Linked DNA regions of Homo sapiens. The protein of the gene in region 3 purifies or fractionates together with the protein of the main gene of each other region. This does not show direct contact. Each region holds a gene or a part of one and is shown on either strand. Other genes may lie near its edges.

Region 1 (8,084 bases), on a different chromosome or scaffold from region 3:
GAAGAAAATGGACTGCCTGGGCCGGGCGCGGTGGCTCACGCCTATAATTCCAGCACTTTGGGAGGCCGAGGCGGGCGGATCATGAGGTCAGGAGATCAAGACCATCCTGGCTAACATAGTGAAACCTCATCTCTACTAAAAATACAAAAAAAAATTAGCTGGGCGTGGTGGTAGGCGCCTGTAGTCCCAGCTACTTGGGAGGCTGAGGCAGGAGAATGGCATGAACCCGGGAGGCGGAGCTTGCAGTGAGCTGAGATGGCGCCGCTGCACTCCAGCCTGGGTGACAGAGCGAGACACTGTCTCAGACAAAAAAAAAAAAAAAAAGTAAATGGACTGCCCTTTACCTAGCAGTTTTTTTTTTTTTTTTTTTTTTTTTGCACTCTGTCACCTAGGCTGGAGTGCAGTGGTGCAATCTCGGCTCACTGCAACCTCTGCCTCCCGGGTTCAAACAATTCTCCTACTTCAGCCTCCCAAGTAGCTGGGACCACAGATGTGCACCACCAGGCCTGGCTAATTTTTGTATTTTTAGTAGAGACAGGGTATCGCCATGTTGCCCAGGCTGGTCTCAAACTCCTGGCCAAGTGATCCACCCACTCTGGCCTCCCAAAGTGCTGGGATTACAGGTGTGAACCACTGTGCCCAGCCGTTTTTTCTGTTTTGTTTTGTTTTGGTTTTTGCTTTTTGTTGTTGTTTGTGTTTTTTTAATGCATTCTCAGAAACATCTTCAGATTCTCCTGGGCAAGCAGTCTCTCCCATTCCTAAGGAAAATCCCACCCATTGGATAGGAAGGCTTCCAGGAGTGTCTGTCTAGTGGCAAGCCACTGGTATGAGATATCTGGAGAGGACCTAAAGCACCCCAGATGGCTATAACTGTATGGCGTCCTACATTACACATCTTGATTCCCCAAGCACCCTGGGGAATCCCTGTGATCAAAAAGGGGAAATGGGTTACACTCTGCCTTTTTAGGGAGATGTCCACAGAAATAAAGGAATTGACATTGTAAAAGCTAGCTCCCTGTCTTTGTTTGTATTTCTTCCTTTACACATATACTTACCTTTATAAACAGCTTGGTTAAAGGTGGCCAATAATAACTACACTTCATGTGGCAACATTGTAAAGTTTAATTAATGTTTCTAAGGTATGAGTTGAACTCACAAGATGAAAGATCCTAAATATGGAATATGTGTTAAGTGCCCAGTCTGGTTTAGTCTGATAATGGCTATAATTGTATGGTGTCCTACATTACACATCTTGATTAGTGTGGCTCCCGTGAGTTCAACCTTGAAAATGTATTTTAATGTTGAGAATGTGTTTAACGTTGATTGGCAAACATTTGGGTGTACAGAATATACGCTTATGTTCTTCAACTAGCCTCAATTAGTTGGTTCTTGATGTAAAAGATATTTTACAAACCAACTTGGAAGGTTTTTGTTTTTTTTTGAGACAGACTCTTTCTCTGTTGCCCAGGCAGGAGTGTAGTGGCACAATCTCGGCTCACTGCAACCTCCACCTCCTGAGTTCAAGCGATTCTTCTGCCTTATCCTCCCGAGTAGTTGGGATTACAGGCACCTGCCAACGTGCCCAGATAATTTTTGTGTTTTTAGTAGAGATAGGGTTTCACCATGTTGGCCAGGCTGGTCTTGAACCCCTGACCTCAGGTGATCGGCCCGCCTCAGCCTCCCAAAGTTTTGGGATTACAAGCCTGAGCCACCTAGCCTTGTTTTTTGTTTGTTTGTTTGTTTTTTGTAACAAGGTCTCACTCTGTCACCCAGGCTGGAGTGCAGCAGTGTGAGCTTGGCTCACTGCAACCTCTGCCTCAGGTTCAAGGGATTCTTTTGCCTCAGCCATTTGAGTAGCTGGGATTACAGGTGAACACCACCATGTCCGGCTCATTTTTGTATTTTTAGTGGAAACGGGGTTTCACTATATTGGCCAGGCTGGTCTGGAACTCCTGGTCTCATGTGATCCACCCATGTTGGCCTCCCAAAGTGCTGGGATTACAGGCATGAGCCACCACGCGTGGCCAGATCTGTGCTTTTTAAAACCAACATGTAACTCAGAAGACTGAAGGGCTTAGATAACCATGTGAGATAGGGAACTATTATTACTAGAATGTAGTTAAATATTAACAGGACTCAGCTATCATTTAGGTTAGTAGAAAAGTTTATCTTTGTATGGCAAAAGCAGCTTTCTCTTATCTTTATGTCCATTCCCTTTCAGTTGCACTAATATTTGTAATTTTTTAAAATGGCTAGCACTTCATATACCCTCCTAAAGATTTTAACTACATGAATTAGAACAACCTTGTTCATTAAATCCTGAAAATGAGTCAGTTAATCCTCCCTTATAAAGACACAGCATTATTTTATTCACATGCAATGAAATACTCAATTCAATAAGCATTTACCCTGCATTTACAGTGGTTCAGCATTTTGTGAACTGTGAGACACGATAAAGGAAAGTTCAATGTATTAAGGTGTCTTTCCTGGCCTTAAGAGTTTACTGTTTCTATTTGGGCAGCAAGAACTATATGGTAGGCCCAGCACTTTGGGAGGCTGAGGCAGGCGGATCACTTGAGGCCAGGAGTTCGAGACCAGCCTGGCCAACATAGCAAAACCCTGACTCTACTAAAAATACAAAAAAAATTAGCAGGCGTAGTGATACATGCCTGTAGTCCCAGGTACTCAAGAAGGCTGACGCACAAGAATCGCTTGAACCCGGGAGGCAGAGGTTGCAGTGAGCCAAGATTACACCACTGCAGTCCAGCCTGGGCGACACAGCAAGATTCTGTCTTCAAAACAAAACAAAATGAAAAAAACTATGTGGTATATTCAAAACAGATAGGAGTGCTTCCATCTGTCTCCTTTCAGGCCCCCATCTCCCTTCTCAGCGGTTCTAAGTTCCATTAGAGCCTTGCTTTCAGCAGGCTGTCATCAAATAGCAATGATATTGTCTAATAATGCCAAAGGTTGATTTGCATTTTAATCAGGGACTTTTCAAGACACAAAAACAAGTGGGCCTGTTTAAACAAAGTTAGAAAGTTGATTTATTTGCAGGGTTCTGATTCACCTATCACAAGGTATACCATACAAGCTGCTTTTACTCCACTCACAATCCTGTCACCCCTGGTTTGTAAAAGCTCTGCTTGCTGGATTGTCTCCCTGCTATCTATGATCGCCTACAGAGTAGACTCCAAATTCTTGGCTTGGTGTGCCAGGCACTTTTGAGCCTCATCTTCCTTACTCCCAGCCAGACATCCTACTTCCCAGCCTCACTGCACTTTCCATGTTTCCATAAACAGGCCTGGCCCTTTCACTCCTTGCTTTGCCCTTGTTTCCGTTCCCCAGAATGCCTTTCATCCTGTTCCCTCTTCTCTTTTTGGCAACTCCCACTTTGAGACACAGCATAAACATAATCTCTGTAGAACTCTTCCTATTCCAGATTTCTCCCAAATTTCTTGTTTTGCCTCTTCTGACAGCACTTTGTATATATGTCATATTATTGTTATGGAAATTAGTTTTGAAACTATCTTCCCCTACTGGCTTCTCAAGGGCAGAGACCTTGCATAGTCTTACCATACATGCTAACTGAATGCTTTTGCAGTTAGAATGATCAACAGGTTGGCAAATTTAGTTTTTGATATTGTGTTACCTCCCTCTGAGAATGCCCCAAGGTTAAGTAAAAACTCCCAACAGGGAATTTACAAGGTTTATTGTTGCTAATTTAACCAAACTTAAAGATTTTTTAAATCAATAATCAATTGTAAAGCATGGGGTCATGAAACACATTAGTAGAAAACACTGACTTTTGCCGATATGGTTCTAAAATGTCTCCTTTGGGACAGCGTGTAAACTGAGATTTGGCAAAAGAAGGAAGTGGGTCTTAGCTTTGTTGGGTCTATAAATTACTGAGTTAAGGACTGATAGAGTGGGGGTTAGGACGATCCTGGGCATAGTGCTGGGTGGGTGAGGGGTTAGTTACCTTTCCATTTCTTCGCCTTAGAATACACACTTAATTTGGCCAGCCAGCTTAGAAAATGCTCCTGGTAGTAAGATAAAAGGATTTACAGCTACATGAAAGAGAAAGGCATCAAAATTCAGGCCTTATTCAGCCTTGGGTCTGTGGTGCCTTGAGATAAAAGAGAAACAATTTATACCGGCACCGAATTAAAAAGTCCTTTTCTTCCTATCTTAGCTCGTTTTCTTCTCCTTTCCTATCTTAACATAGGGACATTCCTCTCCAGCAGCGGGCATAATGGCATGATTATGTTTTCCTCTATTTAGGGTTACTCCCCTAGCCTTGCAACCACTCCTTATTCTTTCATCTCTTTCAAAGTTTCTATTCTCCCGGACCCTTACGTTTTATTCCGTCCCTCCCTCTCTCCTCCTCTTCCTCCTCCTCCGTTTTCCCAGCTAGCTCACTCCGCCCCTCGCCGTCACTACCTTCCCTCCCCCGAGGCTCCTTCCCGCTCCTCCCGCCACCCCCCCCACCCCCTCGCCTTCAGAAAGCTCCAATCAGGAGCTCCGAAGGTGTCTCGAAGGCCCGCCCCCTCCTCCTATCCACTTTTCTTCCCCCCAATTTCTCCCTCCCCCCTTCCCCCCCCCACTCAAGTCCTGCGGACCTGGGGGCTTCGGGATCTGGGCGCTATGAAAAGTGTCTGCCCAGTCACTTCCGGTAAGGGCGCTGCGGCGCGAAGCTTCCCGCGGGACCGTTAAGGAGGGAGTGGGAGTTCCCGGTGGGCCAGGGAAGGAAGGCGCTGCCAGGAAAGGGGATCGCGAAGGGGAGCGGGAGCAGGAGCGAACTAGCGCGAGCGTCTGGGGCACTTTAGCCGCCCCTTTCCAGCCGCCCCCTCACGCGCGAGCTCCCCCGCCCCCCGGGCGGCTGCAGCGCTTCCCTCACCCCCACTCCCTGAGGTTGACACCGCCCCTCCCTCGGCGCCGCGTGACCGGAAATGGCGCCATCTTTAGCCTCTTGTGCTATTGACAATAACAAGCCCTGGTTCTTTCCCCCTCCCCCTTTCCCCCAACCACAGCCTCTCCCCTCCCAGGGAGAGGGAGAAAAGGAGGAGGAGCTGCAGCCTCACAGACTCGCTGAGTCGCTCCTGCAGAAAGGGGGGGAGAGAGATCGAAAAGCAGGGGAGGGGGACGGCACGGCCGTTTACCTGTCTGCCTCCTCATTCGCTCTCCCCCCTCGTTCTGCTCACTCCTGGTGTCAGCCTATCCGCCTTCCCAAACCCTCCCATTCCCCCGGTGTAGCCCCCCCCTTCACTTTCCTTCTCGTCCTCTGTGTTTCTCCTCTCTTCTTTCTTCCCTTCCCCCTCTAGCATTGCTACCTTCTCTCCTACACGCACGCAGGCATATAAACGTAGGTTTTTGATGCTCCTCTGCCTGTTGACCCCGCTATTTTCATGTTTCCAACAGGTTTTTCTTCCCCCAGTCCCTCAGCTGCTGCTGCTGCTCAGGAGGTCAGATCTGCCACTGATGGTAATACCAGCACCACTCCGCCCACCTCTGCCAAGAAGAGAAAGTTAAACAGCAGCAGCAGTAGCAGCAGTAACAGTAGTAACGAGAGAGAAGACTTTGATTCCACCTCTTCCTCCTCTTCCACTCCTCCTTTACAACCCAGGGATTCGGCATCCCCTTCAACCTCGTCCTTCTGCCTGGGGGTTTCAGTGGCTGCTTCCAGCCACGTACCGATACAGAAGAAGCTGCGTTTTGAAGACACCCTGGAGTTTGTAGGGTTTGATGCGAAGATGGCTGAGGAATCCTCCTCCTCCTCCTCCTCATCTTCACCAACTGCTGCAACATCTCAGCAGCAGCAACTTAAAAATAAGAGTATATTAATCTCTTCTGTGGCTTCGGTGCATCATGCAAACGGCCTAGCCAAATCTTCTACCACCGTCTCTAGCTTTGCTAACAGCAAACCTGGCTCTGCTAAGAAGTTAGTGATCAAGAACTTTAAAGGTAACCAAGGCCAAAATCCATAATCACCTAATAAGGATTTGACACTCGAGGGGTCACGTGCTCTATTTATGTTAATATATTAAACAGTTTGGAGGTGGCCTAATGTTTTATGCATAATCAATGAGGTGGAGGGGAGGTCCTTTTTTGGTGGAGGGTTCATTTTCCGGGGGTGGTTAGGATCCTTGTGCTGAAGCATACACCGGGTGTTTCTGTGCAGTATTTTGAGGTCTTTTTCAACCTATTGTATTTAATCTGTTATTCCTTATAACACTGACAATCGGTATGATTGATCCGGATTTTGCAGGTGAGAAATTTGTATTCTAAAGAGGTTTATTTATTTCAGGTGCATAGCGAGCCTTGGCATTGCTGGGATTTTTATTTTTATGCTTCAGTAGGCCACATTATCCAATGCCTAGAAATGCAGGTAGCAATAGTGATCTTTTTATGCTCAAATAAGATTTATAATTAGATTTATACTGTATTCATGAAACTCATTTGGAAGGAATATTTGAAGAAAAATTTATGTTCTCTGCATTTCTTTCCAAAGGTAGGGTTTGAAAGTGAAAAACATTGTGTATACACAGAAGTAGTAACTCTGTGTACCACTAGTCTAAAGATAGGAACAATTACTACATCTATTTTTTCCATCACTAAAATGGATTTTAAAGTATCGACCTGCAGCTTTTAGGAAAATTTGTTCAGACCGTGTTTGAGATATGTGAGGAGAGTATTATGAATACATTGAGGCAAATATAAAATCAGCAATTTTTAAAAATGTATTTGAGCTGAATTAATTTTTATTTGTTGAATGTGTTTCTGTTTTTCTGACTTACTTTTTCAACACCCGTAACTGCCAGGTAATCAGTGCTACAGTGTTTATTAAATAGAGAAGTAAATGAATGAACTTAAGTAATATTTATGAGATAAGTGCTTTGTGGCTGAATATTAGTATTGAGAAGATTAGGTTCTCTATGCTTGTGTTTTTAACATTGTGTGGAAATCAGGAGTATGCTCTATTTTGTCTCAAGCAGAGGGCTATGGTGTTGTCTATTTTTAACCCTTTCTTTTTTATATCACTACCTTCCCATACCCAGGCTCTCAGTTTCTGATTTAATAGTAGAGCTTTCTGAAGTCAATATGAATTGTAATTGAGTAACGTTTTCATTATTTCACTTAAAAATATATGGATTTTGTAGCTAAAGATTTTTAAATGAGTTATGATCCTGGTTGCATTTTCAAATTGGTTTCAGAGATTTTTTTCTCTCCCTCCTAAAATAAAAGCATATTATTAAGGCATTTGGATATTCTAATTAAAACTTTTTTCCCCACACTCATTGCTAGTCAGTGAAGTTTAAAGCCTAGAGTAAGATGTTTCTTTCTATTCTGAAAATGCAACATGGTTTCTGGAGTCATTTCTTTCAGTCTTTAAAAATTTCACTCTGCTCGTAAATGTAGTTTAAAACCTGAGTTAAGATGTTTCCATTTCTATAGATGCTGCATAAATGTGGGGGTCAAACAGACCTGAATTAGAATCCCAGCTTTGCCATTGACTAGCTATGATGACCTTGGGCAAGCTTACTAAATGAGTTCCAGCCTCAGTTTCCTCGGTTGTAAAATAGATTCCTCAGGGTATTGTTGGGAAGATTAAGAGGCTTATAAAGTACCTTGCACATAGACAGTACTTTAAATCTCAGGTTAAAAATTCATGTCGACTTAGGTTTTACACATGATGAAATAAGATCAGGATTGTTATTTTTTATGGTCATTCTTGAATTTTTATTTTTTTGAAGCAATACAATCAATAGGAGAAAAACCTCACCTTCAATTTTAATAGGTGAGTCAAAATGACTTAAACAGTATTATGGCATTTCAAATTTTATTCTTTATATTAAGCTTAAATACAGTGGTTACTTTAATGATTAGGTGTAATAGTTATAAAGATCACAATTTACCCTAAAATTAGTAATGCTATTATATTTTATGAATCTTTGGTTACTGTATCTGACATGGTATTCTGATGCCAACCTTTTACATATCATCTAGATAAGCCTAAATTACCAGAAAACTACACAGATGAAACCTGGCAAAAACTGAAAGAAGCAGTGGAAGCTATTCAGAAT
Region 2 (7,138 bases), on a different chromosome or scaffold from region 3:
TGACATAATCCTGTATACAGAAAATCCTAAAGAATCCACATAAAAATTATTAGAATAAATGAATTCAGCAAAGTTGCAAGGTACAAGAGCAACACACAAAAATCAGTTGTACTGCTATACACTAGCCAAAAAACAATATGAAAGTAAATGAAGAGAACAATTTCATTTACAATAGCACCAAAAATAATAAAATAATTAGAAACAAATTTAATTTAAAAGGCACAAGGCCGGGAAGGGTGGCTCACACCTGTTAATCCCAGAACTTTAGGAGGCCAAGGTGGGTGGATTGCTTGAGCTCAGGAATTCAAGTCCAGCTGGGGCAACATGGCAAAACCTAGTCTTTACAAAAAAGGCAAAAAATTAGCCAGGCATGGTGTGCACCTGTACCAGGTATGCACCTGTACTCCCAGCTACTCGGTAGGCTGAGGTGGGAGAATCACCTGAGCCCAGTAAGTTGAGGCTGCAGTGAACCAAGATCGCACCACTGCACTCTAGCATTGAAGACATAGCGGGACCCTGTCTCAACAACAACAAAAAAGGCACAAACACAAGACTTGTATGCTGAAAACTACAAAACATTGCTGGAGTCAATTCATGATGACCTAAATTTTAAATAACCTAAATAAACAAAAAGACATTCTGTGTTCATGGATTAGAAGGGTTAGTATCAAGATGGTAATACATTCCAACGTGGTCTACAAATAAAATGCAATCGCTATCAAAATCCCAATGACAAACCAGGCATGGTGGCTCACGCCTGTAATCCCAGCACTTTGGGAGGCCAAGATGGGTGGATCACCTGAGTTCAAGAGTTCAACACCAGCCTGGCCAACATGGTGAAACCCCATCTCTACTAAAAATACAAAACATTAGCTGACCATGGTGGCAGACGCCTGTAATCCCGGCTATCTGGGAGAATGAGGCAAGAGAACCACTTGAACCCAAGAGGCAGAGGTTGCAGTAAGCCGAGATCGTGCCACTGCACTCCAGCCTGGGAGCAACAGAGAGAGACTCTGTCTCAAAAAACAACAACAACAAAAACAACCCAATGACATCTTTTGCAGAAATGGACATGCTGATTCTAAAATTCGTATGTAATTGCAAGGAAACCTGAATAGGCACAACAATCTTGGAAAAAAAAAAAAAAAAAACAAAGTCGGGGTCAGGCGCAGTGGCTCACACCTGTAATCCCAGCACTTTGGGAGGTCGAGGCAGGTGGATCACAAGGTCAAGAGATCGAGACCATTCTGGCCAATATGGTGAAACCCCATCCCCAGTAAAAATACAAAAATTAGCTGGGCGTGTTGGCACGCACCTGTAATCCCAGCTACTGGGACAGCTGAGGCAGGAGAACCGCTTGAACCTAGGAGACGGAGGCTGCAGTGAGCCAAGATTGCGCCACTGCACTCCAGCAAGGCAACAGAGCGAGACTATGTCTCCAAAAAAAAAAAAAAAAGTTGGAAAAATCACACTTCTGATTTCAAAACTTGCTACAAAACTATAGTAAATGGAACAGCATGGCACTGACATAAGGATCAACACAGAGACAAATACAATAGAATTGATAATCCAGCAATAAGCACTCACATCTATGATCAATTTTCAACAAGGGTACCAAGACCATTCAATAGGAAAAAAGTAATTTCAATAAGTAGTGCTGCCCAGGTGCAGTGGCTCATGCCTGTAATCCCTGCACTTTGGGAGGCCAAGACAGGCAGATAACTTGAGCAGGAGTTCGAGACCAGACTGGCCAACATTGTGAAACCCCATCTCTACTAAAATACAAAAATTAGCCAGGCATGGTGGCGCGCCTGTAACCCCAGCTACTCAGGGGGGCTGAGGCAGGAGAACTGCTTGAATCCAGGAGGCGGAGGTTGCAGTGAGCTGAGACAGCGCCACTGCCCTCCAGCCTGGGCGACAGAGCAAGACTCCATCTCAAAAAACAAACAAACAAAAAAGTACTGATGAGACTTGGCACAGTGGCTCACGCCTGTTATCCCAGCACTGTGGGAGGCCGAGGTGGGCAGATCACGAGGTCAGGAGATCAAGACCATCCTAGCCAACATGGTGAAACCCCATCTCTACTAAAATACAAGAAATTGGCCAGGTGTGGTGGCACACACTGGTAGTCCCAGCTACTCGGGGGGGCTGAGGGAGGGGAATCGCTTGAACCTGCGGGAGGCGGAAGTTGCAGTGAGCCGAGACTGCACCACTGCACTCTAGCCTGGTGACAGAGCAAGACCCGTCTCAAAAAAAAAAAAAAAGTAGTGAGACAATTGGATATTATCCCACAAAACAGCGAAGTTGGATCTTTGCCTCACAGTATATGCGAAAATGGGCCGAGTGCTGTGGCTCATGCCTATAATCCCAATACTTTAGGCAGATCATCTGAGGTCAGGAGTTTGAGACGAGTATGGCCAACAAGTTGAAACCCCATCTCTACTAAAAATACAAAAAAGAGCTGGGCATGGTGGCAGGTACCTGTAATCCCAGCTACTCGGGAGGTTGAGGCAGGAGAATCACTTGAACTCGGAGGGGACGGAGGTTGCAGTCAGCCGAGATTACCCCAATGCACACCGGCCTGGGCAAAAGGAGTGAGACTTTGTCTTAAAAACAAAAAAAAGGCCAAGAAACGCATGAAAGATACTCAACATCAGTCACTAGGAACTGCAAATCAAAACCATAATGAGATATCATTTCTCACCTACTAACATGACTGTAGTTTAAGAAATGAGAAAATATAAGCATTAGCAAGCATGTGAAGAAACTGGAACACATATTGCTTGTAGAAATGTAAAAGGGTGGCCCCGGGCGCGGTGGCTCATGCTTGCAATCTCAGCACTTTGGGAGGCCGAGGCAGGCGGATCGCGAGGTCAGGAGACAGAGACCATCCTGGCTAACATGGTGAAACCCCATCTCTACTAAAAATACAAAAAATTAGCTGGGCGTGGTGGCAGGCACCAGTAGTCCCACCTACTCGGGAGACTGAGGCAGGAGAATGGCGTGAACCCGGGAGGTGGAGCTTGCAGTGAGCCGAGATCGCGCCACTGCACTCCATCCTGGGTGACAGAGCAAGACTCCCTCTCAAAAAAATAAATAAATAAATAAAAGAAATGTAAAAGGGTATAGTAGTTATAAAAAACAGTTTGGGACTCTCTCAAAAAGTTGCAGGTTTTTTTTTTTAAGTCACATGTAGAATTACTATACGACCCAGCAATTTCACTACTAGATATATACCCAAAAGAACTGAAAACAAGGCTGGGTGTGGTGGCTCACACCTCTAATCCCAGCACTTTGGGAGGCCAAGGCGGGCAGATCTCCTGAGGTCGGGAGTTTAAGACCAGCCTGACCAACATGGAGAAACCCCATCTCTACTAAAAATACAAAATTAACCAGGCATGGTGGCACATGCCTGTAATCCTAGCTACTGGGGAGGCTGAGGCAGGAGAACCGCTTGAACTCAGAAGGCAGAGGTTGAAGTGAGCCAAGATTACGCCATTGCACTCCAGCCTGGGCAATGAGCGCAAAACTCCATCTCAGGGGAAAAAAAAAAGGAATTCAAACAAAGACTTATACACAAATGTTCTTGGTAGCATTATTCACAATAGCCAAAAAGTAGAAACAACCCAAAAGTCCATCATCAGATGAAGAGATAAACAAAATGTGGTATATGCATACAATGGAATATTCAGTCATAGAAATGAATGAAGTAGTAACATGCTACAGATGTGGAAAAACCTTGAAAACAATAAGAAAGCAGACACAAAAGGGCACATATTGTATGATTCTATTTATATAAAACATTGAAGGCTGGGCATGGTGGCTCACACCTGTAACCCCAGCACTTTGGGAGGCCAAGGCGGGTGGATCATGAGGTCAACAGTTCGAGACCAGCCTGGCCAACATGGTGAAACCCCCGTCTCTACTGAAAGTACAAAAATTAGCCGGGCGTGGTGGCATGCGCCTGTAGTCCTAGCTACTCAGGAGGCTGAGGCAGAAGCATCGCTTGAACCTGGGAGGCGGAGGTTGCAGTGAGCCAAGATTGCGCCACTGCACTCCAGCCTGGGCGACAGAGCGAGATTCCGTCTCAAAAAAAAAAAAAAAGTTGAAATAGGTAAATCAATATACAGAAAGCTAACTAGTAGTTGCCAAGGACTTGAGGAAAGGGGAAAATGGGCAGTGACTGCTAAATGGGTATGAGGTTTCCTTTTTTTTTTTTTTTTGAGATGGAGTCTCACTCTGTCGCCCAGAGACTGGAGTGCAGTGGCAGGATCTCGGCTCACTGCAAGCTCCGCCTCCCGGGTTCATGCCATTCTCCTGCTTCAGCCTCCCGAGTAGCTGGGACTACAGGCACCGGCCACCACACCCGGCTACTTTTTTGTATTTGTAGTACAGACGGGGTTTCACCGTGTTACCCAGGATGGTCTCAATCTCCTGACCTCGTGATCCACCCGCCTCAGCCTCCCAAAGTGCTGGGATTACAGGTGTGAGCCACCGCGCCCGGCCGAGGTTTCCTTTTAAGGTGATAAAAATATTCTAGAACTAGAAAGAGATAATGGTTGCACAACACTGTGAATCTACAAACGCCACTGATTTGTACACTTCAAAATGGGTAGTCGTTAATTTTATGCTACGTAAATTTACCACAATTTTTTAATGAGAAAAGAAATGATCCAGAAGAGACTGCTTCTTAGATAACTTAAGCAGTTAGCCTACTAGAGCACATAAAGACATGATTTTTTAAAAAACACTACCTCTAATAAAGATTAATTCAAGGGCATTAAAACACTAAAATTTTATATTTTTAAAATTTTTTAATTTTTATTATTTTGTAGAGACAGGGTCTCACTATGTTACCCAGGCTGGTCTCAAATTGCTGGGCTCAAGCAATCCTCTCCACTTGGCCTTCCAAAGTGCTAGGATTGTAGACATGAGCCACCATGCCTGGCCTAAAACACTAAAATTTTAGAGTTCAACTTAGAAACATATACATATATACTTCTGGTATCATTTTCAGAACTTCCAACTAATCTATGCCTGAAGATAATTATAACTTTGGGAATAACCATTTGCCCAAGGAAAATATAAACCTTAGTGAGACCTTGTCTCTATTATTTAAAAAAATAAAAAATAGGCCAGGCGTGGTGGCTCACGCCTGTAATCCCTGCACTTTGGGAGGCCAATGCGGGTGTATCATCTGAGGTCAGGAGCTCGAGACCAGCCTGGCCAACATGATGAAACCCTGTCTCTACTAAAAATACAAAAAATTAGCCGGACGTGGCAGCAGGCGCCTGCAATCCCAGCCACTCGGGAGGCTGAGGCAGGAGAATCGCTTGAACCCGGGAGGCAGAAGTTGCAGTGAGCCGAGATTGCACCACTGCACTCCAGCCTGGGCGACAAGAGCAAAACTCCATCTCAAAAAAAATATTAAGAATAATAAAGAATAAAAAAATATAAAGGCAAGGCGTGGTGGCTCACACTTGTAATCCCAGCACTTTGGAAGGCTGAGGTAGGAGGATCACTTGAGCCCAGGGGTTTGAGACCAGCCTGGGTAACAGTAAGACCTTGTCTTTATTATTTAAATACATAAATAAAGGAAAATATAAACTTGTAACAGACTAAATAAAGGAAAATATAAACTTGTAACAGACTTAACTAATAATAGCAATGTGAATTAACATAGTATCAATGAAAGCAGTCAGCAACTGAGTGTGGTGGCTCACACCTGTAATCCCAGCACTTTGGAAAACCTAGGTGGGCAGATCGCTTGAGCCCAGGAGTTTGAGACCAGCCTGGACAACATGGTGAAATCCTGCCTCTATGAAAAAAATTTAAAAATCAGTAGTAGTAGTACTTACTTCAATGTTCGTTTTTTTGTGTTTGTTTTTTGTTTTGTGAGACGGAATCTCGCTCTGCTGCCCAGGCGGGAGTGCAGGGACACAATCTTGGCTCACTGCAACCTGTAGTCCCAGCTACCTGGGGAGGCTGAAGCAAGAGAACTGCTTGAGCCTAGGAGGTGGAGGCTGCAGTGAGCCATAACTGCACCACTGTACTCCAGCCAGAGCAAAAGTGCGAGACCTTGTCTCAAGGAAAAAAAAAAAAGGCCGGGCACAGTGGCTCACACCTGTAATCTCAGCACTTTAGGAGGCCAAGGCAGGCAGATCACCTGAGGTTGGGAGTTCGAGACCAGCCTGACTAATATGGAGAAACCCTGTCTCTACTAAAAATACAAAATTAGGCCGGGCGCAGTGGCTCACGCCTGTAATCCCAGCACCTTGGGAGGCCGAGGCCGGCAGATCACAAGGTCAGGAGTTCGAGACCACCTGGCCAACATGGTGAAACCGCATCTCTACTAAAAATACCAACAAAATTAGCCAGGCATGGTGGCACACGCCTGTAATCCCAGCTGCTCCGGAGGCTGAGGCAGCAGAATCGCTTGAACCCAGGAGACAGAGGTTGCAGTGAGCCGAGATCGCGCCACTGCACTCCAGCTTGCACAACAAGAGCAAAGAAAACAGTCATCTTCACCTTGTTATGCCCAAGACAATAAGGGTGCATTACTCAAGTTCTTAAGTGAGTTCCTTTAAGTGCTATGAAGAAATGATGGTCTGTCCAATGGTGACACGGTAGTTACCAATTAGTGAATATCTAGTATGGGACAGACATTGAGCTAAGTAATTTACCATACTTACATTATTCTGAATTTTCACAACCATCCTACCCTTTTTCACACATGAGGAAACTAGCTCAGAGAGGTCCCCAAGACCAGCTAGTACTAGGTAGAAAAAAGGTTTCAAGGATTCAAATCCCAACTCTGCTGACATACCTGTGAAGTCTTGGTTATTTAACTTCTCCAAATCTCAATTTCCTTATCTGCAAGATGGAAACAGTTGTTGTGCGGGGTTAAATGACAATATTGTCCCCATGATGGGATAATATAAAGCCTCAAGAAATACTTATGTAAAATTTTCTTATCCTAACAAGCATCTGCTAGGGTATTTAGGGATGACAGGCCTGCAACTTATTTTCAAATGATTCCACAAAATATATATATAGATACCACACACACAAATAGAGAAAATATGGCATAATATTAACAACTGTTTGCCAGGCACTATGGCTCATGCCTGTAATCCTA
Region 3 (7,138 bases):
CAGTAACCCTGACATGCAATAAAAAGAAATAAGACTTGGCCCAGGGAAAAACTTGGTTTTTTCTCTAGTTCTGAAATACCAAGATCAGGTACCTTCCTTCCCACTCCTCAACACATGCCCTGCACTCAAGCCATCTCAGCCACACTCGTCCCCCACACCACACTTGGAAGCAGTCATTCCCCCTATGCCCTTCTGTTGTTCATGCACCCCGGGGGTTACCGCTCCTCCCCAGGTTGCCCCTCTGATCCTGCCTGGAGAGTTGAGCACCTGGTCCATACAAACTGCCCTGACTGCTGCAGCCCACACTGATCTGCCACCCTTCAATCTGTACTTGCCTGGCAGTGCCTCTCCCTCTTCGATGGCCTCCCACACCACTGCATCTCCTTTGTGTTTCAGATGCACACACCTCACTCCTCCAATAAGACTGCTGACAAATCTAAGTCCTCTACAGTCGTTACCACTTTGAGGCAAAATGTAAACATCCTGCAGAGGAAAAGAGGGCTTCTTGGGCAAGTGTCTCTAAGCCTAGGAAATGAGCCTTTTATCCTCCACAAAGGCCTGGCCTGGGCTGGGGCAGGGCCATGGCCCTCACACTGGGATCCATTACAGAGACACTTTGCTCAAGTCAGCTTTACCACTGCATTTACAACACACAACTCACAAACGAGACTTCTGAAGCACTGACAGACTCTCCTAGTGGAAGGGGATCTTAAAATTCAACTAGCTTCTTCCAGTAGCTGGGCAGTTGTAACCGCAGACAGCTCCTTCTAGGACTCCAAATTGGCCACCCAGGTAGGTCAACCAATTAAACCCATTCTGGTCTCGTAGACTTTCTTAAGAATTCCAATTCCTCTTCCACAGTCACCCTTCAACTGACAACAAATATCATCACCACAGACTTGTCTTCTTTTACCTAAATTTGGTAGAGTTCCTTATGACTTTCTTCCTCCAGTGGCCTGGCTTACAGGCTCCTCAAAACATGAACCTCAGAAATTTTCAAGTAAGATTGCACTGCTAGCAAAAATGCAGCCTAGCTCCATCAGAGACCTTAAATATTTAGGCAAAAGGAGAAAGAGCTTTCTGGGGCAGGAAACCTTCCTTCAGTTGAGGGGCAAAGCAAAGGCAGACGAGAGGAAACACAGTGCACAACTGGAAAAGTGCTACAAAGAAAAAGAGAACTGGGTGATGGAGAGTCCCTTTCCAAGAGGTACCAGGAAGCATACTTTTGGTGCATTGTATAAATCTCAAGATTGTCACTAACTCCTAGGAGATTTTCTACATAATGGAAAACAGAGCTTACTTTGTCCAGTTACACTTTACGACCTCCATGACTGGAACACAGCCTACTTTGTAAATGTAGCAATAGTTATAAATTAACATTCCACCTAACATCAGACATAGGCACATCCAAATATAAAGAAAAATGAGGCCGGGCGCGGTGGCTCAGGCCTGTAATCTCAGCACTTTGGGAGACCGAGGCAGGCGGATCACTTGAGGTCCGGAGGTGGAGAACAACCTGGCCAACATTGCGAAACCCCGTCTCTACTAAAAATACAAAAATTAGCTGGGCGTGGTGGCGGGCACCTGTAATCCCAGCTACTCAGGAGGCTGAAGCATGAGAATTGCTTGAACCCAGGAGGCGGAGGTTGCAGTAGTGAGCCAAGATCATGCCACTGCACTCCAGCCTAGGCAACAGAGTGAATTTCCATCTCAAAAAAGAAAAAAAGAAAAGTAGGTTGGGCATGGTGGCTCACGCCTGTAATCCCAACAAAGAGGGAGCCAGAGGTGGGAGGATAGCTTGAGGTTAGGCGCTCAAGACCAGCCTGAATAATACAGCAAAACCCAGTTCTCCCTAAAAAAAAAAAAAAAAAGAAAAGAAAAAAAATCAGCCAGGTGTGGTAGCATACACCTGTAGTCCTATAGTCCTAGCAACTTGGGAGGCCGAGGTGGAAAGACTGCTTGAGCCCAGGAGGTTGAGGGTGCAGCGAGCTGTGTTTGCACCACTGCACTCCATGCACTCCAGCCTGGGTGACAGAGACTCTGTCTCAAAAAGAAAATACTTTCCAAAATCAAATTTAAATGTGAAAGTGCTTTGTAATGCTCTAAGTATTACCTCCCCACCACAGTGCTTCCTCAGAAATAATGAAACAGCTCATAATGGTCCCCCAGGTATGCTGGAACTAGGAACTAATATGGGTTATTTCCACAAAAGCCTAAATGGAGAGAATATTCTTCGGCAGTCTGTGATAGGGCTGACTTCATTAAGAAGGAGGGCTCTTAAAGCTACAACTCACCAGAAGAAAGCTGTTGTTATAAGATTCAGGAGGGGGACATCACGTTTTTCCCTCTGAAAACAAGCAATCTAATTTAAGGACAAATAAAGAAAAGATCACCAATCAGTTGACAAAATTGGCTTTTAAAAGTTAGGCCAAGGGTAACAGAGGCATAAATACAAACAGAATACGACAGAATCACCCTGATTCTTTGTAGATTTCTTTTCCTTTCAAGTCAGTAGCTATTTGGTGAGTATCTTCTGTGTGCCTCAAGTAGGTGGCAAGCAGCCTTCAACACTTAGCAGCCAGATCATGCATTTGCTAAATGGAAAAAATGACAAGGTCCTAAGCTTTGGCCATGCTCAGGGAACAGACCATATTGGTCTGGTTCAGATTTTCTAAAAGATTATTACGTCAATGGACTGTTTTAATTGGTGGTGGAGGTGGCCTTGGCCTTTTGCTCAGATTTCTTTTTCTCAAACTTAAATCCTTACCGCCACCTGCTGGCAGCACCAGGCTCTGCTCGTGCACACACCCACCCTCTGTGTTTAAATAACCAAAATTTAAAGAGTCTACACTGTTGTGTAACTACACGGTGTGCCTCAAACTTTAGCCAAGTGTCTACAATAGCTCTGTGCACACCCGCCTTTCTTTTGTCTGATGCTATTTATAATGAAAATAAACTTGAACAGTTCAAAATTCTAAAACAAGTATCATTCATCTTTGTTAATGACCTTGATACCAAAGATTAGGTAGTGTGGTTAGCCTCCCAACCTCATTTTGTACAGAGTTTGATTTATAGGGAAGAATAAACAGAAAGGAGAAAGCGGTTAGCCCTTCCTACTTTGTTCAGACCTCAATCCCAAGTCAGAGAAAAGGCCACCATCATCAAGAGGGTTGTTGCACAGCTTATTAGAAAAGCAGCAAGCTTATTTTCCTAATTGTCTTTGCTTTGGACTAATGTTAAATATAGTTAACACTTCCTTGCCCAGGCTGGTCTCGAACTCCTGGACTCACGCAATACTTCCTCCTCGGTCTCTCAAAGTGTTGGGATTACAGGTGTGAACCACTGCACCCAGCCTCATACTTCCTTGGCTAGTCGGATTAAACATGGTCTATGAATTGAACATCCACAGAGTATATGTATATAGGGTGGTGTGTGTGTGTATTCAAAAAAATTAGCTCAAGTTCATGAAAAGCAGAGTTCAGCAGTCCACTGACACACTTTTATGGTGTGCCAGAAATATTCAGTTCAACATTTGAGTACCTACTATGGGTTAGGCATGAGACAAGACGCTCGTCTTACAAATAGGACACAGGTTTTATTTTCAAGGAGTGCATATAACAGTATAGAGAATCACTCCAAATTTCACAAATCCCCCTTTGAAAGGCACCATCTACTCATCTCTTATGCTTCTTAGCTGGAATTACGGGTCCCACTCCGCCACTCTTAGACACCTGATTTTCAAAATTCATTAAGCATCATTAATACTTCAAACTCCATTCACACTAGAAAAGAACTTCCAATGCTAAGGAAAATCAGTGCAGGGCTCCAAATAAATTGTGAAGTGAGGTCACTTCATGTGTCAGGTTACAGGTACACAAATGCCCATAACGCAAAGGCTGGGGCCTACATCTGTCCAAGAAGCTAAAAGTTTCCTCAACAACCAGGTGTCACTAAAACCACACTTACATCCTCTTTACTTCACTTGCAGCTCATCTGCCAAATTTTATCCCTTTCTTCTTTCCGTATGAAACATGTCATGCATTTTACACATTTATAATATATATGTACAGTTCACAGAGAAAGAATAAAATGAAACTATGTGCCCACCACGCAACTTAAGAAGCAGAACACTCCCAGGGCCTTGAAGCCCCACATGCCCCTGCCCAGCTGTACCCCTCCCTCCACTCCACCTGGTAACTTACCACCATCCTTCTATCCATTTTTAAGATCCATCCCCAAACTCATTTTCTTTTGCTCTATAGCTGCAAAGTACATGTGTACTGAAACTACAACATTCTCTGTTCTCCAAGCCTGATTGATCACCCTATGCTGACCAGGAATCAGAAAAAAGAGACAGAACACCAAGAGCAGGAGCCGTGTCACACTCATCCCTGTAACCCAGCACCTAGCCCAGGCCCACTTGTTGGTGACTGCTTGTTTCATCTACACCAAGATTCGCAAAACAAAAACATAAACACTGCAAACGAATAAACAGGTATGCCTGGAGAGAGAAACAAATGTTCCTTTCCTTCCTTACCTCTGCTTCTACCTGCTGCTGAGTTCGGTTGTGGTTCTCTTTGTACTGGTTGGCTCTCAGAACTTGCTGCTCGATGCCCAGTAGAACTGCTTCACAGCCATCACACCTACAATGGAGAAAACCAGCCCTGAGCTGCAGAATGGCCTGGGAAGTCTCTTCCAGGCTCAGAAATATTCTTCCCCAACAGCTCTCCCCAGTATCTTACAGGGACCTCCTTTAATACTCCCTCTGCCACATCTCTTGCCCGTTCACTCCTTCCCAAAGACAAGCACTTCTAAATACATAATGCAGGACATTAGGAGACAAATATGGTAGTCTGGGGCTAGTTTCTTAGAATACAGCTTTAATTTTCAACTTTGTATCTCATGGAAGATGGTTTTGTAGCACATACGATTAAAGAAGGTAGGACAGGCCGGGTGCAGTGGCTCCCACCTGTAATCCCAGCTCTTTGAGAGGCCGAGGTGGGTGGATCACCAGGTCAGGAGTTCGAGACCAGCCTGGCCAACACAGTGAAACCCCATCTCTACTAAAAATACAAAAATTAGCCAGGTGTGGTGGCGGGTGCCTGTAATCCCAGCTACTTGGGAGGCTGAGGCAGGAGAATCACTTGAACCCGGGAGGCGGAGGTTGCAGTGAGCTGAGACCACGCAATTGCACTCCAGCCTGGGTGACAGAGCGAAACTCTGCCGCAAAAAAAAAAAAAAAAAAAAGAAGGTAGAATAGATTTTATAGATGGCACTGAGTAATCCTTTTCTCAACAGAAAAAAAAGATGTTCTAGGCCAGGCGCAGTGGCTCATGCCTGTAATCCCAGCACCTTGGGAGGCCGAGGCAGGCGGATCACCTGAGGTCGGGAATTCGAGACCAGCCTGACCAACATGGAGAAACCCCGTCTCTACTACAAATACAAAATTAGCCAGGCCTGGTGGCACACGCCTGTAATCCCAGCTACTAGGGAGGCTGAGGCAGGAGAATCGCTTGAACCTGGGAGGCAGAGGTTGCGGTGAGCTGAGATCGCACTATTGCACTCCAGCCTGGGCAACAAGAGCAAAACTGTCTCAAAAAACAACAAACAAAAAAAGATTTCCTAAAAGCATCCTGTTTTGAAGATTCCGCCTTTTCTCAGAAGTTTAAGTTACTTCCTAATTGCCATACCCCTCCTCCTATTTTCCCCACTATTAATTTTTTTAAAAATGAAAAAGTTGAAAGACTACAATGAATATCCCCATACCCTCCACTTAAGATCCAACAGTGTGAGCATTTTGCCATATATGTGGTAGCCCTCAGCCTATGAATTTTGTTTCAATCTACCTCCAGTGCCTAAACATGAGTTGTAAGAGTTTCTACTAGTAAACATCCCATGGTAACCAGTTAGTCTGGCACCTCTATGTCAAACATATTGGGGGCTTAAAAACAGGAAACCAGACTATGGACATAAAAAGCTGTGTCAGCCATCTCAAAAACAGAATAGGACAGCCAACTTTGGCAGGTTCAGAAACTAGATTTTGTGTGCCAGACCATTTTTGTGTTGGGGTATTTCTAAGTTTATTTCTTATTTATTCTAAGTTTTGTAAGCTATTGAAAACTTCCACTTGTGGCAGATGTTGTATAGAGAAGGTGTTTGGGGCTATATTTGGGACAGAACTTGGGGTGAGGGGTGAGCAACACATGTCCTGGGGTGTAAAAGTAGCTGAAGTGAGGGAAACTCAGGGGACATCAGGCCCCAAGGAGTCAAAGTGGCACTGCTCCTCTCTGGATATGCTTCTCTCGGGGATGAGCAGAGATTCTCTCTCCCTCCCGAACCTGTGTACAAAGCTCACCGGGTCTGCTTCATGGCTTCCAACATGCCACGTGCCTGCCTGGGAACACACTCTCCTCACCTCCAGGTATACTCTAACCCTGGCCTTCCTTCAAAACTGAGCTAAAACTTCTCCAATCAGTCCATCTGGCTTTATAAGCCCCAAATAATTTAAATCACTCCACAGTGAATCCTCGTAGAATGTGAGACAGCTCTTACAAATATCAAATTCCATTAAAACAGAGAAAACACAAATGTCCCAATGCTTTTTATATACCAGAGTATAGTTATCAGATATTCTTTGTATGAGTCTGTATTCCAAGTTAAAATGACCCACTCCTTGTCTTCCATGTCCCTCACGGTGTTTTACAAACATTAGCCCAATATGTTACTGATTTTGAACGTAAGTTCTTTTATCCGAAGAATCTTATAAACATGTTAACTTCAACAGGGATAGAAAAAATAATAAAAACAAAGAAAGAATCTTACAAACACTAGCCTTCCTGAGTTTGGTCAAACTTTGAGCGTGAGTTTGGAAAGGGCAGGACTAGCCTCACACAGCTAGGACACATAGGCTCCACCTGCTAACCCTGGGCATTTTATAGCCCACTTTTAAATAGCTCCCAGTTGCATTTAAGGAAAGAACTATTTTACAACCAAGGCACCAGGAGGCCTGAAATGACTCCTGTTATCACACAGCTGTGATCACAAATGTAGCTCCACTCTCCGGCTCACTAAGCCCCAGCTCCCAGGTAGCTACAGGCCCACCCCAAACCCTCAGCTGACACCAGGGAATCACATTTTT
Region 4 (7,138 bases), on a different chromosome or scaffold from region 3:
CTCTTGCTCACCTCTGCTTCGCGCTGGGCCTGATTGTTTGCAGTGGCAACAGGAGACTTGCTCCAGCTGGTGGGAGGAAGGGGCAGTGAACCTGATGGTGCTTTTGGAGCTTCCCAGGGCCCTGAGGACGGCACCTCACCTCTGCAGGGAAGGGGGCAAATGTGGGCTGATGGACAGTGGCACTTCCACCAGACTCTTAAGTGTTCGACTATTTAGTGCATCTCAACTTTATTCCCTTGATGGAATGGGAGGCTCAAACTGCACAACATGGAATCTGGGGACTTTCCCTCCAAAGCACGTGTGGCCGGTCCTGTCCCTGAGAGGCCAGGCGTCATCAGAGTTCAGTATTTCCTGGGTTGATAAATACATGTAAAAAACGTTTCATAATACTTTCCCGGCTTATCCTGCATCCCACACGTGGCAGGACAGTAAATCTCAGTTCTGAAAACAACGCGGGTTGACAGGCCTGGGCTGACTTTCATAAGCAACAGCAACAGTAGACTATTACCGTGGTGGAAAACGCGGTGTAGGCTGTAAACGCTGAGTAAGTTAGTTATTGTTATCATTTCCTTAAAATCTTGTGATGTAACCTTGACCGCTACTACTATGAGAAAAGTGTTCAGCTTTCCATGTCCCATCTACCTCTTCCCTTCCTGAAAATATGAACAAGCGCGCACCATCCCTGGGAAGGAGAGTTTTAGGGCTCTATCATTTCTGCAGTGGCAATGAGCAACACCTGGAATAAAGAGCTTCACATTTGCCAGTTTTTCTACATTCAGTGTATACACAAAGCACCATGAATAATGCAGGTCAAATGATATGACTGAACATAGAATTAAACATGCTTTGTCAATTGTTTAGCAAATACTACAAATTTAATTATGCTAATGTTACATTTACCTTTACTGGAAATTTCAGCTGATTATATAATTCAGAAACTAGAAGATTATGACCAAGAGTCTTTCTCATCTTCATTATTCTGACGATAGCAGCATCAATCTGATATTGTCTATCCTGAAACACTCTCTCAGTGGTGCTAACCTGTTCCTCAACCTGTATAAAAAAGAAAAAAAAAGTTAAGTGTAAAACTGTATTTTCTTTTTATTTTTTGCGATGGAGTCTCACTCAGTTGCCTGGGCTAGAGTGCAATGGTGTGATCTCGGCTCACTGCAACCTCCGCCTCCCAGGATCAAGCGATTCTCTTGCCTCAGCCTCCCGAGTAGCTGGGATCACAGGCACCTGCTGTCATGCCCGGCTACTTTTTGTATTTTTGTACAGGCAGGGTTTCACTATGTTGGCCAGGCTGGTTTTGAACTCCTGACCTCAGATGATCCGCCCACCTTGGCCTCCCAAAGTGCTGGGATTACAGGTGTGAGCTACCACACCTGGCCTATATTTCAATATTAATGACCTGATGTTACCGAATTTGATGGGAAATGGTTTTTTTTTTTTTTTTGAGACGGAGTCTCACTCTGTCACCCAGGCTGGAGTGCAGTGGCGCGATCTCGGCTCACTACAAGCTCCGCCCCCCGGGTTCACGCCATTCTCCTGTCTCAGCCTCTCAAGTAGCTGGGACTACGGTGCCCCCCCACCATGCCCGGCTCATTTTTGTATTTTTAGTAGAGACAGGGTTTCACCATGTTAGCCAGGCTGGTCTCGATCTCCTGACCTCGTGATCCACCTGGCTCGGCCTCCCAAAGTGCTGGGATTACAGGCGTGAGCCACCGTGCCTGGCCGGAAATGTTCTTTTGATGCAAAGAAAGGTCAGACATTGGATGAATCCTACTTTATTATGCATGTTTACTTGTTGTAGTAAAAGGTACCTTCCCAGAATAGCAAAACTCCAAAACCAAAACTTAAAAAATATTTTTAAAAGTTATTTTCCTTATAAGAAAGCTGCAACAACTCTATGTGTGATGTAGATTAAAACTAGCAGCACAGTAAACAAAACATAATGACCATCAGGATATATTCCAGAAATGTTAAGTGTTGATCAACATTAGGAAATCTGTGAATATAAGTGAGAGCACTGTAGCAGTTGAAAGGTTAGATTACATGACCATCTTGATAGATGCTGAAAAGGCATGATAAAATTGATTTTTTGATTTAAAACAAACATTAGCATACAAGGATGAATAAAAAAGCATCTGAACATGATAAAACATGGTTATCAGAAACAAACAGCAAATACTAGAGACAACTTAACCTTAGTCCAACAGGAACCTGATGGGGATCTGCAGTTGAAATGAGGGCTGGGGGAAGGTCTGTGCATACATATGAGGCAAGTATGCTTCAGGATGGGAGAGACTCCAAGCTTTCATCACATTTTCAACAGGATCCATGACCCCCAAAAAGTTAACATCCTCTGAACTAGAGATAAAATTAGGAAGCTCAGCTGCACTGCTATTCCTTAAAAACATTACTTTAGAGGTTCTAACTATGCAATACAGGAACAGACTAAAGAGGTATATTGAAAAGGTGCAGACAAAACGATCATTATTTGTAGATGAGCTGGAAAATCCAAGAAAATCAACAGAAAAACTTTCAAAGCTAAAGAGTTTTGTAAAGTGGCTGGAAATAAAATAAATATACAAAGACAAATAGCATTAATACATACATTCTGATAAAAACCGTCAGAAATGTAAAGAAAAAAGGTCCCCTTTATAAGATATCAGCATTTCATTAGCCTGTCTTGCTTAAAACTCTAGTGGTTTTCCAAATGCTTCATGGATCTGAGCCATCTTCAGAGGGTCCAGCTGTGGCTCCCTGATCAGGCCTGTCTGGCTCAGCTTCCCCTTTTGGCAACGATGCTGCAGCCAGAGGCCTTCTTTCAGTTCCTGAGCAAAGCTAGTCACTTCTTCAGGAAAGCGTTGGCTGACGACAGTATTTAATTAGACTCTCCTGCACTTCTCTATCCTAACATTTTCCTCCACTCTTACAAGTTAGTCAATGTGTGTGATCCTCTGCTACCTCTCTGCTGGAAAAGACTGAACACTCCTAGAAACAAGGACTTATTCTTTATTGTTAATGGATGAATTCTCAGTGCTTCACAGAGGACCTGGGCCACCACAGATGCTCAATAAGTATTTGTTGAATGAATGAAAATTTATGACTAGCAAGAAATATGCAAGACTTACAGAAGAAAACTAGAAAGCTCTGAGAAAAAGATTTGTATGTATTTACATATATACACATATGTATGAATCACAAGATTTAATATGATAAAGATAAAAGCTCTGTAAATTAATGCAATATGGATTAAAAATGTCAATGTTCTTATTTGGGGGAGCAAAGGCGTGATACAATTATTGTCAAGTTCATTGGAAGAATAAAGTTATAGGAATAGCTACATTAATTAAAAGAACCTGGTGCCGGGCACGGTGGCTCACGGCTGTAATCCCAGCACTTTGGGGGGTCAAGGTAGGAAGACTGCTTGAGCCCAGGAGTTCAAGACCAGCCTGGGTAACATGGCAAGGCCTCATCTCTACAAAAAATACAAAAATTTAGCTGGGCGTGGTGGCATATGCCTGGGGCTGAGGTGGGAGGATCGCTTGAGCCCAAGAGGTTGAGGCTGCAGTGAGCTATGATCACACCACTGCACTCCAGCCTGGGCGACACTGTCTCAAAAAACAAAACAAAACAAAACAAAAAAAATGGCTGGCTATGAAATAGACACAGAATTTATAGAAGAGAATTGAGAAACTGACCTATATGAATTTGATACATAATAAGGTGATAATTCAAATAACTTGTTCAAGGATGATATTTTAAATTTGGTTTTGGAAAGGATGGGGGCAGTTAGACTGTTTTCAGATACTAAAATAATTTCTGCAACATGAAAAGAAAGATTTAAATGTAAAAACTTCTAGAAAAATAACATAGTATAAATGTTTTTTAAAACTCTGGTTAAGGGAATTTCTCTCTTAGGCCAATGATATGGTTTTGAATATGTGTCCCCTCAAAATCTCATGCTGAAATGTGGTCTCCAGTGTTGGAGATGGGACCGGGTGGGTGGGGGCAGGTCCCTCATGAATGGCTTGGGCCCTCCCCTTGGTGATGAGATCTGGTCGTTTAAACATGTGGGGCACCTCCCTCCCTGTTCTTGCTCATGCTTTTGCCACGTGAGACACCTGCTCCCCTTGCACCTTCCACCATGACTGGAAACTTCCTGAGGCCTCGTCAGAAGCTGAGGTGATGCTGGCACCATGCTTCCTGTACAGCCTGCAGAACCGTGAGCCAATTAAACTTCTCTTCTTTATAAATTACCCAGTTTCAGGTATTTCCTTATAGTAATACAAGAATGGCCTAATACAGCATTACACGTTAAGTCAGAAACCATAAAAGAAAAGGAGACTATATTTGAGAACTTAAAAACTGTTATGTGAAAAAAAAACCAATAAAAACAACAAAATTATCTGTCAAAAATGACAAAGCAGGCTGGGCATGGTGGCTCACGCCTGTAATCTCAGCATTTTGGGAGGCCGAGATGGGTGACTCACCTGAGGTCAGGAGTTTGAGACCAGCCTGGCCAACATGGTGAAACCCCGTCTCTACTAAAAATAGAAAACTTAGTTGAGTGTGGTGGCACATGCCTGTAGTCCCAGCTACTCGAGAGGCTGAGACAGGAGAATCGCTTGAACCCGGAGGACGGAGGTTGCAGTGAGCGAGATTGTACCACTGCACTCCAGCCTGGACGACAGAGTGAAATGCAAAAAAAAAAAAAAAAAAAAAAACGAAAAAAAAAAAGGGACAAAGCATTAATATCCTTAATATATAAAGAAAACCTACTAATCAGTAAGAGAAAAAACATTATAATGAATGCATATGACTTGAAAAGCAATTAGAAAAAGAAAAATACAAATGGCTAAGCATAAAAAGAGCAGCATCAACATGTATGAAGTGCTTACAGGTGTGTGGCAAAGAGCTTTCTAAACGATTCATTTAATTCTCACAACTTGAGGTAGTAGTATGTCTATTTTAAATATGAGAAACTGAGCATTAGAAAGATTATATAATTTGTATAAACTACTGAGTGGTAGAAAGATGCTGTAAAGAATCAGAAATCAAAATGAAAACTGCAACAAACTATCTTTGGGCTGCTCAGAACAGGGTGAGCGAAGGACAGGTGGAGGTGGGGGCAGACACTGTGCTCTGGTGAAATCTGCCAGACTTCAACTTGGAAAAGAGCAAACTAAGACAAGTACACATTATTTTACCCAGCAGCTCCAGAGCAAGAATCACACTAAAGAAACAATCTAACAAGTGCACAGAAATGTCTGTGCCAGGGTGTTGAACGTAATCTTATTTTCAGGAGGGGCAGTGGAGGAATGTTAGTGCCTGTGGCCGAGGGCACTGCCAGCCCTGGTGGGTCTACACAACCGGCACTGTGCTCCTGCAACAAGTCCTGGCCAGGAGAAGACTGCGATCAGCAACGAAAACTGGCTACAGGAAGGCCCTGACAGGTGCCATATGTACAGTGATCCCAGGTGTTTTTTCTTTTGTAGAGTTTGGGGTCTCACTGCATTGCTCAGGCTGGCCTCAAACTCCCGGGATCAAGCGACCCTCCCGAGTAGCTGAGACTATGGGTGCATGTCACTGTGCCTGGCTTAGTGATCCCACTAAAAAAAAAGTTTACATACACTCACACCACAGAAAAAGGCTGTGACCACAAACAAAAAGGGCAGTAGTGGTTACCTTCGGGAGAAAGAACTGATAGACCTTCTCACTTTTGCCCACTATAAAAGGTGCACCCTCAAAGGAGTTAAAAACTTAAGTCCACATAAAAACCTGCACAGAAATGTTTATAGCAGCTTTAGTCATCATCACCAAAACTTGGAAACAACCAGATGTCCTTCAGTAGGTGAAGGGATAAGTTGTGATGCATCCAGACAACGGAGAATCCTTCAGTGCAAAAAGCAGAGTTACCCAGTCATGAAAAGACACGGTGAACCTCAAATACGTTCTAATAAATAAAGAAGCCAATCTGAAAAGGCTATATACACTATGACTCCAACTGTACGGCATTCAGGAAAGGGCAAAACTATGGTGACAGTAACAGGGTCAGGGGTTGCCAGGGGCTCGGAGGGAGACAGGGATACAGCGACAGAACATAAGAGAATTTTTAGGGCAATGAAACTGTCCTGTATGATCCTATAATGGTGGATACATAACATTATACATTTACCCAGACCCACAGAATGTACAACACCAAGAGTGAACCATATCAGATTCTATTACCATAGAAAGTGTGGATAATTTTCGAAACCCTATGACCATGGGGAGTTCTGGCTTAGCACACAACTTTTTTGTGAATAGGAATAACATTAAGTGGCTTTTTTTCTGATTTTCTTTCCTACTGAGAATGTGAAGTTAATGAAAGCGACAGGAAAATGAGTACTCTTATAAACATTACATAGTGAAATTGGATTATTGTAGAAATGTGCTTCAGGCCTCTAACAGCCAAAAACATTACTACAAAAACAAATGATTCCCTGCTAAACCCCCTATAAGTAAAAAGAGAAAGTTTATACATACAGTTTCCTTCATCTGAATTTGATTGATCTTTATTCTAAACAACTTGTGCTTGAACTCTCCATTAAAAATGAACTTGTCTCCATCTTCCACTTCCTTTCCTTTGGGACTTTTAATCAGCACACGTGCTTTGCCACAGGCCAGGGACTGCAGCGTTCTGCGCAATTCACTATCCTCTGAATGGGAAGCAAATGCAGGCAAAGGCTGGCGTTAAACGAATGAGACTCAACAACAGTAAACCAATCATGCTACCAAGTCTATGTCTTATCTTAAAACAAATACATGCTTTAAGAACAACTCATGGAGCTATGCACTCTGCAGTTTTCGTACCTATCCCCGTGGCCATTTTTATCTCCTCAAAGCTGAAGCCATCTCCCTCGTTGAACATGAGGAGCACCAGTGTCTGGAAGAGGGACACCTGGAATTCCTTCTTCCCCTGGAAGAGAAGGCCTCATCACACCTCTGAAGCTGTGCATGTACAATCTTTGAAAAATTAAAAGAAGCTTCTTTTTGCTCTCAAACTTTTTTTTTTTTGAGAAGGAGTCTCGCTCTGTCACCCAGGCTGGAGTGCAGTGGCACAATCTCAGCTCACTGCAAGCCCCACCTC

Evidence for each region.
Region 1: the proteins of COPS7B (region 3) and CUL4B purify together in Homo sapiens (affinity purification with mass spectrometry; 7 studies listed by BioGRID and IntAct, with this or other methods). This does not show direct contact.
Region 2: the proteins of COPS7B (region 3) and DCAF1 purify together in Homo sapiens (affinity purification with mass spectrometry; 3 studies listed by BioGRID, with this or other methods). This does not show direct contact.
Region 4: the proteins of COPS7B (region 3) and CUL4A purify together in Homo sapiens (affinity purification with mass spectrometry; 9 studies listed by BioGRID and IntAct, with this or other methods). This does not show direct contact.

The regions. Positions count from the first base shown.
Region 1 is NC_000023.11:120,557,963-120,566,046, reverse strand, and holds the start of CUL4B (cullin-4B), read left to right. Parts: upstream 1-5,084; 5' UTR 5,085-5,408; coding exon 5,409-5,964; intron 5,965-6,148; exon of another isoform or gene 6,149-6,246; coding exon of another isoform or gene 6,247-6,268; intron 6,269-8,007; coding exon 8,008-8,084.
Region 2 is NC_000003.12:51,489,908-51,497,045, forward strand, and holds part of DCAF1 (DDB1- and CUL4-associated factor 1), read right to left. Parts: intron 6,874-7,138; 5' UTR 6,827-6,873; intron 2,607-6,826; exon of another isoform or gene 2,482-2,606; intron 1-2,481. UniProt on the Homo sapiens protein: Acts both as a substrate recognition component of E3 ubiquitin-protein ligase complexes and as an atypical serine/threonine-protein kinase, playing key roles in various processes such as cell cycle, telomerase regulation and histone modification.
Region 3 is NC_000002.12:231,796,364-231,803,501, reverse strand, and holds part of COPS7B (COP9 signalosome complex subunit 7b), read right to left. Parts: intron 4,644-7,138; coding exon 4,538-4,643; intron 2,595-4,537; coding exon of another isoform or gene 2,565-2,594; exon of another isoform or gene 2,401-2,564; intron 2,363-2,400; coding exon of another isoform or gene 2,295-2,362; intron 1-2,294. UniProt on the Homo sapiens protein: Component of the COP9 signalosome complex (CSN), a complex involved in various cellular and developmental processes.
Region 4 is NC_000013.11:113,254,522-113,261,659, reverse strand, and holds part of CUL4A (cullin-4A), read right to left. Parts: intron 6,968-7,138; coding exon 6,862-6,967; intron 6,708-6,861; coding exon 6,535-6,707; intron 1,054-6,534; coding exon 901-1,053; intron 1-900. UniProt on the Homo sapiens protein: Core component of multiple cullin-RING-based E3 ubiquitin-protein ligase complexes which mediate the ubiquitination of target proteins. As a scaffold protein may contribute to catalysis through positioning of the substrate and the ubiquitin-conjugating enzyme.